Homo sapiens: one gene and its partner. The protein of the gene in region 1 interacts with the protein of each later gene in a pairwise test. Each region holds a gene or a part of one and is shown in the gene's direction. Other genes may lie near its edges.

Evidence for each region. Proteins that work in one complex are often made in the same cells at the same time.
Region 2: the proteins of CAPN15 (region 1) and CPEB2 interact in a two-hybrid assay, tested with the Homo sapiens proteins (one study listed by BioGRID).

What each region holds. Positions count from the first base shown.
Region 1 is NC_000016.10:544,687-551,711, forward strand, and holds part of CAPN15 (calpain-15), read left to right. Parts: exon of another isoform or gene 1-1,951; coding exon of another isoform or gene 1,952-2,152; coding exon 2,153-3,601; intron 3,602-4,306; coding exon 4,307-4,515; intron 4,516-4,601; coding exon 4,602-4,785; intron 4,786-4,928; coding exon 4,929-5,152; intron 5,153-6,615; coding exon 6,616-6,741; intron 6,742-6,825; coding exon 6,826-6,978; intron 6,979-7,025.
Region 2 is NC_000004.12:15,047,461-15,054,485, forward strand, and holds part of CPEB2 (cytoplasmic polyadenylation element-binding protein 2), read left to right. Parts: intron 1-4,953; coding exon 4,954-5,124; intron 5,125-6,667; coding exon 6,668-6,757; intron 6,758-7,025. UniProt on the Homo sapiens protein: May play a role in translational regulation of stored mRNAs in transcriptionally inactive haploid spermatids. Binds to poly(U) RNA oligomers. Required for cell cycle progression, specifically for the transition from metaphase to anaphase.

The sequences.
Region 1 (7,025 bases):
CCGTCGCCTCCCCCACGTCGCCTCCCCCACGTCGCCTCCCCCACGTCGCCTCCCCCACGTCGTCGCCTCCCCCACGTCGCCTCCCCCACGTCGTCTCCCCCACGTCGTCGTCTCCCCCACGTCGCCTCCCCCACGTCGCCTCCCCCACGTCGCCTCCCCCACGTCGCCTCCCCCACGTCGCCTCCCCTCACGTCGTCGTCTCCCCCCACGTCGTCGTCTCCCCTCACGTCGTCTGCCCTGAGCCCGCTCCCTTCGAAGGTAACCATCCTGCAGTAGTGAGGGCTCCTTGCTGAGCACGTGTGGCTGCGACTTCAGGAGCGTTCTGGGTTGAGAATTCCAAAAGGGCTTCGCTCAGGCCTGGCTTTGGGTCTTTGGGCTCCTGACGCGAGCTTTTACTTCCAGGCTTTGGCGGTCTGGCCTCAGGAGGTCAAGGCTGCAGTGAGCCGTGCGCGAGCCACTGCACCATCCTGGGCAATCAGACCCCATCTCTAAAGTTCAAAACAACATCTTTGTAAGGGTTTCGGGTCTCTGAGCCCATGAACCTGCCCAGGCCCTGCAGAGGTGAGGGTGGCCCTAGAGTGGCTGGGGGGTTGTGGAGACCAGAACCAGGGCAGAAGGGCAGGGAGGGTGGGGGCCCTGCCGAGGTCTCCCACCGCTGACCCCTGACCCCTGGCCCCCTTCCACCTCGGCCCACCGAGAGAGGCCGGCACAGCGCAGACTGCGGGGTCAGTGACACTCCCCTCAGCGTCTCCAGCCACAGAAGGGCCGTGGCCTGCCTTCGCCCTCCTCACCCGTGTCCCGGGGCCACGTTTGAACTTTAGGCCTTGTTCTGACTTCATTGAAACCCTCCTGAAGTGCAGACGTCTTCCTGACCCACCTGGGTTTTGCCAGGATGACTCCGAAAGGTGTCTCCCAGCAGACACACCCCGCTGGCGATTGTTTGGTCCTGGGGACCCGGGTTCTCATTCTCCTCTCTGGAGCTGGTGAGGCTGTCCTTGCTAGTCGGTGACAACTACAGGGCCAAAGGGAGGGTGTGTCCCAGGAGGCCCAGCCCACCTCTGCCTGCACCTGCGGTCAGCGGGGTGCAGAGTCTGTGAAGGCACCTCCCGGAGTGGGGGCTGCAAAGATCATGGCCACTGTGCCACCCACAGGGGCCCAGGCCGGACGCCTGGGCTGTGCCGCCTCGGCAGCCAGGCCGAGGAACGTGCAGGTGCGGCCGGGAGCCCGCCGGCCACAGCTGCATCCATGCCCTTCTCCGAGTGGTGATGGCGGGGAGAGGCCTGGCTGTCTACGGGCAGATTGCTTGGGCTTTCACAGAAGCCCGCTGTTAGAGCAGATTCCCGGCCTTGGGTCTCTCTGCTCCAGCTGGACGCCCTGAGCCTCGCCGGGCCCAGTCCACCCCCGTCCACTCTGCCAGGGGCAGCTCAGAGCCCTCGCCACGCGGGGCTGAGCGCAGGGAAGGCAGCATCACGGAGTTCGCTCGGCTCCACAGAACACCCGTGTTGCTCGCGGAGACTTTTTGTTTTTGTGCTTCTTATGAAGAGGCAGGTTTTCTTTCTTCCTGAACCAAAAGGGTTTAGATGGAGCACAAGATTCAGGCCATATTTACAAGAACAATTGATTTTTCTGCCAGGCAGAGCAGCCAGTCTGTCTCGGAGGCTGTGCTGTGGTGTGGGGAGGCCCCTTGCTCAGATCAGCCTGTGCCTTCCCCAGGCCCCGGCCCATGCACCTGCCCTTCCGTAGGTCTGAGCACCTGTTCTTCCACGCCCAGGACGACCTGGTCCTGAGTTTGGCCGGGACCCCCTGCTATCTGCCGTCCACAGGCCTGGTGACAGAGAAAGCAGTGCCCTGGAACAGCAGCCCGGCTGTGGGGTGCTCAGCCCTCTCTGTAGGATCCTGTGTGGCTCAAGGGGTCTGCTGAGCCTCCAACGGGCAAGAGGGGCCCTGAGCCATGGATCCATTCTGGGTGGAGGCAGCCCCCACCGCCGCCTGCCTCAAATGCTCAGCCCTAGGCCCTCGGCCCCGTAGCTCTGCAGCCACAGACGGGTGCCTTCCCCAGGCCGAGAGGAGGGTGGGGTCCAGCCACTCAGGACCTCACAGGGTGGCCCTGATGAGCACCTTCCCTTGCAGCCACACCCACTCGCCCGGGTCTATGGCCACGGTCGGAGAGTGGTCCTGTGTGCGCTGCACCTTCCTGAACCCGGCCGGCCAGCGCCAGTGCTCCATCTGCGAGGCTCCCCGGCACAAGCCCGACCTCAACCACATCCTGCGGCTCAGCGTGGAGGAGCAGAAATGGCCCTGCGCCCGCTGCACCTTCCGCAACTTCCTGGGCAAGGAGGCCTGCGAGGTGTGCGGCTTCACCCCGGAGCCTGCGCCTGGGGCTGCCTTCCTGCCAGTCCTCAACGGGGTCCTCCCCAAGCCACCCGCCATCCTGGGGGAGCCCAAGGGCAGCTGCCAGGAGGAAGCAGGTCCAGTGAGGACTGCGGGGCTGGTGGCCACGGAGCCCGCCAGGGGGCAGTGCGAGGACAAGGACGAGGAGGAGAAGGAGGAGCAGGAGGAGGAGGAGGGAGCGGCGGAGCCCAGAGGGGGCTGGGCGTGTCCGCGTTGCACGCTGCACAACACGCCCGTGGCCAGCTCCTGCTCCGTCTGCGGGGGCCCACGCAGGCTCTCGCTGCCACGGATCCCTCCTGAGGCCCTGGTGGTCCCGGAAGTGGTGGCCCCGGCCGGCTTCCACGTCGTGCCTGCCGCGCCTCCACCTGGCCTCCCCGGGGAAGGTGCCGAGGCCAACCCCCCAGCCACCAGCCAGGGCCCAGCTGCCGAACCAGAGCCGCCCAGGGTCCCGCCCTTCAGCCCCTTCTCGTCCACCCTGCAGAACAACCCCGTGCCGCGCAGCCGACGCGAGGTTCCCCCCCAGCTGCAGCCACCGGTGCCTGAGGCTGCCCAGCCGTCACCCTCTGCCGGCTGCAGGGGAGCCCCCCAGGGCTCGGGCTGGGCTGGGGCCTCCCGCCTAGCAGAGTTGCTGTCTGGCAAGCGGCTGAGTGTGCTGGAGGAAGAGGCCACGGAGGGTGGCACCAGCCGCGTAGAGGCCGGCAGCTCCACCTCGGGCAGTGACATCATTGACCTGGCCGGAGACACCGTGCGTTACACGCCCGCCAGCCCCTCCAGCCCCGACTTCACCACCTGGTCATGTGCCAAGTGCACGCTCAGAAACCCCACAGTGGCCCCCAGGTGCTCGGCCTGCGGCTGCTCCAAACTGCACGGCTTCCAGGAGCATGGCGAGCCCCCCACCCACTGCCCCGACTGTGGGGCCGACAAGCCCAGCCCCTGCGGCAGAAGCTGCGGACGGGTGTCCTCGGCCCAGAAGGCCGCCCGCGTCCTGCCCGAGCGCCCGGGCCAGTGGGCCTGCCCTGCCTGTACCCTGCTCAACGCACTGCGGGCCAAGCACTGCGCCGCCTGCCACACGCCTCAGCTCCTGGTGGCCCAGCGGCGGGGGGCCGCGCCCCTGAGGCGCAGGGAGAGCATGCACGTGGAGCAGCGGCGGCAGACAGACGAGGGCGAGGCCAAGGCACTCTGGGAGAACATCGTGGCCTTCTGCCGGGAGGTGAGGCGCCCCCTCGCCCTCTTCCTGCTCCTGAGCCTCCTGCTCCCGCCCTCCCCTTCCTAGGCTTTGGGCTCTGGCGATGGGCTGGGGAGGAGCCCACAAGGCCTAAGACGTGATGGGGAGGGCAGCACCCTCCGCCCCGAGGCTCCAAGCTCCCAATGGCCCTGGGGTCCAGCTTGGCCTCCTGACCCTTGGTCCTTGCTGGTGACCGAGATGCACGACCTTCACCCCCCTCAACCCTCCACCGTGGCCAGGAGGGCCCCGAGCCCCGTCTGATGTGCCGCAGGAGGCGAGGGCTTCCCAGGGGCAGCGTGGAGACCCCGCTGAAGTGCGAGGTCGGGATGTACCCGTGCTCCGCCCTCTAGAGTCCAGGATGGCATCACCCACGGGTCAACTGGGGCGCAGCCTGCACCCTCCCCAGCAGGGCCAGGGCCAGAGTCGTGCTGCCACCCACTGGGGGCTGCGCTGTCCCCCTGGGCCCACACGTCCCCTGCTCCTCACCTGTCGCCAGCCGGTGGCCTCTCCACTAGGGCTGAGGGCTTCCTCGACACAGGGCCGGCGCCAGGTCTGTGGCTGTCCACGCTCCACCCGTCCCTTTGGGGCTCAGGCAGTGCTTTTGGGCGCTCTCCTGGGTGGGGTCTTGTCCCTGCCAGGTGGAGCGAGGCCACCCTGCCCAGCCTGAGCACATGGCCGTGGTCTCTGCAGAACAATGTGAGCTTCGTGGATGACAGCTTCCCTCCCGGGCCCGAGTCTGTCGGCTTCCCCGCGGGTGACAGCGTGCAGCAGCGTGTGAGGCAGTGGCTGCGACCCCAGGAGATCAACTGCTCCGTCTTCAGGGACCACAGGGCCACGTGGTCTGTGTTCCACACACTGCGGCCCTCAGACATCCTGCAGGGGCTGCTGGGGAACTGCTGGTGAGGCCTTCTCCAAGGCCGGGGTGGGGCGGGTGGGCGGGCGACCGGCCGCGGTCCCCGCGAGGTCACCCTGAGGCTCTGCGCAGGTTCCTGAGCGCCCTGGCGGTGCTGGCGGAGCGGCCGGACCTGGTGGAGCGGGTGATGGTCACGCGCAGCCTGTGTGCAGAGGGCGCCTACCAGGTGCGGCTGTGCAAGGACGGCACGTGGACCACGGTGCTGGTGGACGACATGCTGCCCTGTGATGAGGCCGGCTGCCTCCTCTTCTCACAGGTGGGGCGGCCTGCAGGGTGGGCACGGGCGGCAGGGGCAGCCTCTGACCCCAGCCCCGAAAACAAGGCCGGCTGCTTCCTCTTCTCCCAGGGCGGGTAGTGTGGGGGGCGGGCGGGGGTGGCCTCTGACCCGGCCCTCTGCAGGCGCAGCGGAAGCAGCTGTGGGTGGCCCTCATCGAGAAGGCGCTGGCCAAGCTGCACGGCTCCTACTTTGCGCTCCAGGCGGGCCGCGCCATCGAAGGCCTGGCCACGCTCACCGGCGCCCCCTGTGAGAGCCTGGCGCTGCAGCTCAGCTCCACTAACCCCCGCGAGGAGCCCGTTGACACTGACCTCATCTGGGCCAAAATGCTGAGTTCTAAGGAGGCTGGGTAAGAGGAGGGGCACTGCGTGGTCAGCCGCGTTGGGAGGAGAGGCGAGGCGGAGCGGTGGGAGATGTGGGGCTGGTGGCCCCTGACCCAGTTCTGCTTCCACGAGGTGCCCCTGGCGTGGGCTGACCCCGCGTGGCCAGGCCACAGCCCCAATCACCTCCCCCTCCCTGGGCGGGGCTGGAGCTGGCCTTCTCATGCCAGGAAGGCCACATCCTGGCCAGGCCGTGGGGCGAGACCGATGCCGTCACCCCGGAGCAGGTGTGAGCGGCGTGTCGAGTTTGACCTGGGCCGTGGGGCGAGACTGATGCCGTCATCCGCCTCGGGGCAGGCGTGAGCGGCGTGTCGAGTTTGGCCACACTCTGGTCAGCGGGTCTGTGCCTCGACCCCCAGGGGCCTCCTCGGAGTGCCCCGGTGCGAGCACCTTGAAGCTCCCGGAGCCCTCCTCTCAGCTGACCCTGGGCAGTGCTGCTGCCCACCCCCCACCCGCCCGGGAGCCACAGAGCCCAGAGCCAGCCCCACAAGGCCTCCAGGGGACCCAGGCCTGCCACCCCTGACTCAGGCCCTGTGCGCTTCAGGCATGGTGGAGGGGGCTGGTCCAGACCCTCCTGAACACTTCACGTGGTCCCTACAGGCAGGAGTGGGCCCTTCTCTGCTGCGCCTGCCTGTCTTGGTGGCAAGGTCGCGGCCAGCGAGGGCACTGGTCAGCAAGGCCCCGGTCAGTGAGGGCCCCGCTCAGCCATGCCCCCAGTCGGTGAGGGCCCCACTCAGCCATGCCCCTGGTTAGTGAGACCCCCTGTCAGTGAGGGTTCCCTGTCGGTGAGGGTCCCCGGTCGGTGAGGGCCCCCAGTCGGTGAGGGTCCCGGTCGGTGAGGGTCCCCTGTCGGTGAGGGTCCCCGTCGGTGAGGGTCCCGGTCGGTGAGGGTCCCCTGCCGGTGAGGGTCCCGGTCGGTGAGGGTCCCGGTCGGTGAGGGCCCCGGTCGGTGAGGGTGCCCCGTCGGTGATGGCCCCGGTCGGTGAGGGTCCCGGTCGGTGAGGGTCCCCTGTCGGTGAGGTCCCTGGTCGGTGAGGGTCCCGGTCAGTGAGGGTCCCCTTTCGGTGAGGGTCCCCTGTCTGTGAGGGCCCCGGTCGGTGAGGGTCCCCTGTTGGTGAGGGTCCCGGTCGGTGAGGGTCCCCTGTCGGTGAGGGCCCCGGTCGGTGAGGGCCCCGGTCGGTGAGGGTCCCCGGTCGGTGAGGTCCCCGGTCGGTGAGGGCCCCGGTCGGTGAGGGTCCCCGGTCGGTGAGGGCCCCTGTTGGTGAGGGCCCCGGTCGGTGAGGGCGCCCCGTCGGTGAGGGTCCCGGTCGGTGAGGGCCCCGGTCGGTGAGGGTCCCCAGTCGGTGAGGGTCCCGGTCAGTGAGGGTCCCCGGTCGGTGAGGGTCCCCTGTCGGTGAGGGTCCCGGTCGGTGAGGGCCGCTCTGCCACACAGGTTCCTCATGGGTGCCTCCTGTGGCGGGGGCAACATGAAGGTGGACGATTCGGCCTACGAGAGCCTGGGCCTGCGCCCCCGGCATGCCTACTCCATCCTGGATGTCCGAGATGTCCAGGGCACCAGGTAGGGCCGGCCTGGCTGAGGGTGGGTGGGGTGCCGGTGAGACTCGGGCAGTGTGGTTCAGATCCTCACCCCTGTGGTCTGCAGGCTTCTGCGGCTCCGAAACCCGTGGGGCCGTTTCTCCTGGAACGGCAGCTGGTCCGACGAGTGGCCACACTGGCCGGGGCACCTGCGTGGCGAGCTCATGCCGCACGGCAGCAGTGAGGGTGTCTTCTGGATGGAGTACGGCGACTTTGTCAGGTATCGGCACCGTGGGGCGGTGTGCACGCCGCCCCCGCCCTCCTAGG
Region 2 (7,025 bases), on another chromosome or scaffold:
AAAGTCTTACATATCTTGTGTTAAGTTTATTTGTCAGTATTTGGTGGGTTTGGATGAGGTATGGAAATGATATTTAAAATTTTTCCCAGTTTATTACTAGCATTTAGAAATAATTTGGTTTTTGTAAATTGAATTTGCATTTCTTCCCTAGATAAATACAATTATTTCTACTAGTTTGATTTCTTCGAATTTTACATGTACAATTATGTCTATACTAAGTAATTTTATTTTTCTTTGCCAGTGTTCATGACTTTAAATTATTTTTTTCATCTTCTTTGATTTGTTGTACCTCCAGTAGTACAATGCTGAGTAGAAATAGAGTGAACATCCTTCCAAACCTTCAAGAGAAACCATTTGATAATTTATTATTACAGACTTTCACTCTTTTTTTTTTAAATGCTCTTTATTGGATTGAAGAAATTCCCTCCTACTCCTAGTTTTCTGGGAGTTGTGGTTTTTTTTTTTTTAATTATGAATAGCTGTTGAGTTTTATCAGATGCATTTCCTACATTTATGGAAATAATTTTATGGTATTTCTATTTTTGTCTGTTTATGTAGTACAATTAACAGTAATTGGTTTTAAAATGATAAATCAATCTTACGTTCCTGGGGTGAACCCCACTTAATCATGATTTGTTTTCCATTTTTATCTATACTTCTGGATTCATTCTGCCAATATATTTTTTAGGATTTTTGCATTTGTGTTCATGAGGGATATTGGTATATAGTTTCCTTATGTTTTTGTCAGATTTTAGTATTGCACTTGTAAAAAAAAGTTGTGAAGTGCTTCCTCTTTCTTTATTCTCTGGAAGAGTTTGTATAAAATTGCCATTTTTTCTTCTTCAAAAGTCTAGTTCATTTGCCAGTAAAGCCATCTAGGCCTGGATTTTTCTCTGTCGGAAGATTTTTTTATTTTAAGTTATGACTTTCATTTTTTTTTAGCAGACAAAGAACTTTTCAGATTTTTTCTCCCTGTGCCATTTTTGAAAAGCTGCATTTTTCAAGGGATTTGTTTCCTCTAGTTGTTAAATTTATTACCATAAAGTGGCTAATAACATTCTTTTTAATCTTTTAATGTTTGTAAGTTCTGTGTTGATTGATGTCTCTTTTTTGTTACTTTATTTCCTTCATCGTACTTTCTTTGTATTTTATTTGCTGTTCTTTTTCTAGCTTTTTGTGGTAGAAACAAGATGATTTGTTTTAAGCATGTCTTGTTTTCTAATATGCTTTTAAAACTATGAATTTTCCTTTGAGCCTGGCTTTTGCTGCATTCCAGCAAAATGAATTTGTTGTGTTTCATTATCATTCAGTTTTATTCCTTTGAGGTGTAAGAACCTGAAAACATACGTATGGTATCCTTCTTAGAAAGCATGTTTAAAGTATACTACAGTGGTAGATATAACTTATTTAATGGTTCTCCTTTTATTGTCATATTAATTTGGAATATGATAAAAGGATAATTGGCAAGGTAAAAGGTCAGACTTTGTCAATGATATATATTCAGTTAACTCTTCTTTTAAATGAGTATTTAAATCTGTAGCTTTTATGGCTTCTTGAAAAAAAGCAGTCATTATTGTCCAACAGTGAAGATTCTTGTTAGTATGGCTAGTGTGCAAAATGTTCTTAAACTTTTCGTTACATTCTTTGTTTAGCTGAACTTCGTTAATAGATTATAGATGTTTTTAGTTATATGAATACTAAGTAATATTTTATTATAGTAAACAAAAAGTTTGAGTCACTTTTGGGTCACTTTTCTCTTTGGCATTGCTTATAGTGTGATTTGTCACCGCATTCTTTTTTTTTTAATATAGACCCTAAGTATTTGTGATCCATATTTTTTCTCAACTTAAATGTCTGTTAGAAAGACATTTGAATACTTACTGTATTTATGACACTGCTAAGTTTTTATTTGTGTTAGGGCATTTTAAAGTGAAAAACTTTCCAAAGTATTGTACATCTGAAATAAATATAGAATTTGGATTTGTGATTTTTTTCCTTAAAATCGTTTGTATGTATGCTGTTTATCTTATTCCTTTTAAAGTAGAGAATTATTCAATTAAAGTCTAACCTTTAAAAGTTTGACCAGTTATTCACAATTAATATTATTTTTAGTGGACCTTGATGTTCATTTTATTGAGTAAAAATAGTTTCATGTTGAAGAGTTTCCTTTCTATTGATGACAAAAAATACTGACATTTTGTTTTACATTGCTTCCTGTTTCTAATAACAGCGGTATTTGAAAAGTTAAGCAATATTCACAAAGTTACTCAGTGAACATGGGTATTTTTCAGAACATCATATTTAAACAGCATTTGAATCTTTAGAATAATTCATTTCCTATATCAAATATCATCTTTCTCTCTGTTGTTGTGTCTTATAAACTAAATTTTTATGTCAAACATCTAGGTAGCTAGCTCCCTCACTCTGACAGGCATGTGGTCCCTTCCTTCTTGTCCCCAACCCATTCTGTTCAGGCTGTCACATTTCTAATTGTCTTTGTTTGTATCACTTGCATCATGTGTCATATTGTTCAAGATGTTCTATGGCATGTGATTTAATATATAAACAAATACCCAACATAAAACGGTCCGGTCCGTGGCCTGTTTGTTTAATATATAGACAGATACCCAACATAAAACCGATACTGGTCCATGGTCTGTTAGGAACCAGGCCACACAGCAGGAGGTGAGTGGAGGGCAAGTGAGCATTGCTGCCTGCCTGAGCTCCACCTCCTGTCAGATCAGCAGTAGCATTAGATTCTCACAGGAGCGTGAACCCTATTGTGAACTGCATGTGTGAAGGATCTAGGTTGTGTGCTCCTTATGAGAATCTAATGCCTGATGATCTGAGGTGGAACATTTTCATCCCAAAATCATCCCCCTGCTGTGGAAAAATTGTTGTCCACAAAACTGGTCCCTGGTGCCGAAAAGGTTGGGGATCGCTGCTATAGATTATATGCATTGTCTCCTATCCAAAAAAATCCTTCAGTTAATACTGAAAGAAAAACAACTTGTCCATATTCTTACTGTTTTTCCTTCTCTAACATACTTCTCTTCATTTGATCTCTATACGTAATAAAACTCTAAATACATGCAATGTGACTCCTACCCAACTTTCCTGAAACAGCTACCTTCACAGATCATGTATGTCCTCAAAAACAACTGTTTATTAAAAGTAATTATCTTAATATCTCACATTGTTACTTAATTGCTCTTTCGTTCTTTTATTGGTTTTTTGGTGCTTCTATTACCATGATATTTTGGCTGCCCTCCCACTTTTCTTACCACTCCTTTCTCTAACTCCTTGAATGTTCTGCTTCTTCCTTGTAAGTTTCCCAAGGAACTGTCCTCATCATTTCTCGCTGGAGTGTTTATCATTGATGTTATAAAGGACCTTAAACTATAACCCATGGAGTTGACTCCAAATTATTTTCTCAGAAATATGACATTTCTTTTCTCCACTTCCTTTTCAGCTTCCTACTATACATTTGCTTCTGAACATCCTAACAGCATATAAAACTTTACATCTAAAGCTTAAATTATTTTCCTTTCTTATACCAGTTTCTGGTCTTAACTGTCCTTATATCAGTTAATGGTTTTATCATTTTCTAAAGTCTTCCTTAGATCTCTCCTTTTTCATTCTTTCTCCCTATTTTGTTTCCTATCTGCTTGTGACTGCCATCCATCCTTTGTGGATTTTTTGCACAGCTTCTGATCTGCTCATTTTCAACTACCTTATCCATATTGACTAAGTCTCCCTAATGCATAGAAAAAGTTATAATCTTGATTGAATCCCTGTATCTAGTTTATTATCTTCACCACCTACTAAATGTCTCGTTAGCCTGTCATTCAATGCTAAATACTCTAGCCTCAAAGGGCTTTTCTGGCTTTTACTCTCCTTGTTTCCAACATATTTCAGCCAACCTTGACTATTCCTTATTTCTCAAGTAAGTTCAATTTTTCCTACATTTTCTTATGTTTCTCCTTTCACTTGGAAAAAAAGGAAAATTTACTGAAAACCATGTTCCTGTAAATATTTCCACCTATAGATATTCTCCTCTTTCTAATGCCTCACTATGTACTGCTATTTTTCTCTTTTTATCCCAAATGCTATTTAATTTCACTTAGAGATTTAGGAAATCATCCTTTTATTTGACTCCTTTCCTCCAGAATATGTCCTCTGAGCACTTTGAAGCTTTCTTATGGATGTGTACCATGGTTACATATATAGATCTTATCTTTCTAAATGTACATTCCTTGACAGCCAGGGAGTATATCAGGGCATTTAAGTTTTGTGGAGGGATTACCCACAGAGTGGGGATTACTTCAGAGGATTGTGCAGGATGTGCCCTATATAAGGATTACCTCCTGAAATGTGGGCTCAAATGGGCACTAACGTGCTAGAGGGGGTACCTTTTCTATTTTGCACATGTGCGGAAGCTCCGTCTACTGTTTCATGTAATTGGCACACGTGTAATAAATTAGGTGAAGACCTTGTATACAAGTATTACTTGTTCTCCTCATCCTTACTTACTGTAGTCTACAAGTGATTTTTTATAAATTATATCCCCTTATCTATTTAGTCTGTGTCATTTCCTTTCTGCCACCAGTTTCTGAAAAGTTTCTCCTGTTATATATCCATTCTAACTGTCCACATACATTAGGTTCTTGCTTATAACAAGTTCTTGCTCATAACAAGTTGAAGTGATCTAGTATCTCTTTTGCAGTTTAATTGTTGACATATGACTATGTTTATTTCTAAGTCACTCTTTAGATTGCTTCTTTCTTGAATCCAGGTAATTAAAACCACATGCTATTTAAATTTCTCTTAATTTTTATGTTCACCTGCATCACCTTCATTTTTAAGTCTTTGAATTTGTCATTGGTATTTTTATGCTTAAATTTATCATTTTCTCAGATCTGAGATTCAAGTTGTATTTGTTCTTTATTCTAGGTCGTTCTTCCCTCTTTCCAATAGATGATGGCTTGCTTGATGATGGTCACAGTGATCAAGTTGGAGTTTTAAATTCACCCACCTGTTATTCAGCTCACCAAAATGGAGAGCGAATAGAACGCTTCTCTCGAAAAGTTTTTGTTGGTGGTCTTCCTCCAGATATTGATGAAGGTATTTATTAAGATATTTATTAACATGGTGATTTGGGCTTTAACAAAAACAAAAAGATATGAAATTTAATGTGAATGGACTATGAAAGTTTTTACCACCTAGAGATTTTCAGAATTAGAATGCATTTTCTTCTTTTAAAATACTTTATCACCTGTTGAAATATGAAAGTAGTTGAACAAAAGCTTTTTTATTTTTCACTTTAGATCTTATCATATTTGTAACTGTGAGCATTTTTTGTAAATAAGATTTTCATGACCTAGGTCATATTCTACTTGTTTTTAAAATATAGAATATATTTAGGTATATAAAACTTAAAGCTTTTTGTATCACCATAATGTGTGCATGCACACATACACTGAAATAAATGGAACCAACCATAAGATAATATCTGCAATGCTTGGTAATCAAAAGTTTATTTTTATTTTTATTTATTTATTTATTTTTTTTTTTGAGGTGGAGTCTCGCTCTGTCTTCCAGGCTGGAGTGCAGTGGCGCAATCTCGGCTCGCTGCAAACTCCACTTCCCGGGTTCAAGCGATTCTCCTGCCTCAGCCTCCTGAGTAGCTGGGACTACAGGCGCCCGCCACCATGCCCCGCTAATTTGTTGTATTTTTAGGTGAGACGGGGTTTCACTGTGTTAGCCAGAATGGTTTTGATCTCCTGACCTCATGATCCGCCCACTTTAGCCTCCCAAAGTGCTGGGATTACAGGCATGAGCCACCATACCCGGCCAAAAGTTTAATTTCTTTAAGGATAAATGTGCTCTTAGAAACAGGGAAGAAAGAGGCTATTAAACCCGAAAGGGAAATGGAAACAGAACATGAATAGGAAATTAGGGTTTCACAAACACTAGTAATTGTATGTGATAACAAAAGAAAATTAATTGAAGACTTAAAATATTAAGCTATATTTGTGAGGTTATGGGAAATGTATCACTCATTCTTACATTTTAGGAAATTTTTTAGTTATGATTCAGATATCCACAAACTTAATTCTAAGTATTGATCTTCATAAGCTTTCTATGTAATGAAATAACGTAAGACATAGCAATTGGATGTAACCTATGTGGATTTCAGTGAAACTACCAGGCATGTATCAGACCCTTGTATATTTTTTCAACATTGTAGTTATTCAAGTCTTGTTTTAGCAGACCTTTTTTCCTATAATAAAATGATTTTATTTGTGAAGCAGTAATAGATTTTATTTATATATGTTGGCATTTTTTTCAATCCAGTGCTATTTGTGGTTTGGTGTACTATAAAGTCATTAGTATCCATACAATGTTATATAAAATTTTAAAATTCACATGGAATTGAGTATTCTAACCAATGCATTGCTTAAAAGTGAATTTATTTTGACAAAAATTGTTAATCTTGACATATTATTTTAATAAGTATATTAGACATATTCCCAGTGTTTATATTCTAATTTATCTTAAGGTATTTGGCACTTTTAAATGTTAAATCTTCATAGTAACAGTACAGAATTTCTTAGAACGAATCACTGAAACTAATTTCTAATGTGTATTATTGTACTTTCTTAAGATGAAATAACTGCTAGCTTCAGAAGATTTGGGCCTTTGGTAGTAGATTGGCCTCATAAAGCAGAAAGCAAGTCCTATTTTCCACCAAAAGGTAAGGATTGTTATTGTTAATATTTGCTAGGAAATTGGTTGTATGAGAGCAAAAGAAAGAATAGCAATTACTTAGCCAGTTAGGAATCATAAGAGACTTGCTATGATTTGATAATTTCATAGACTCAGATCAACAAATGTTTGAGTATTTTCTCTGTCTAAAGCATCATTTCAAGTAACTTGGGTATAGACATATGAAACAATATCTCTCTGCATTATGAAATTAAGATCTATGTGAAGTGATTGGTCTTTCATAAAATATAAATTTA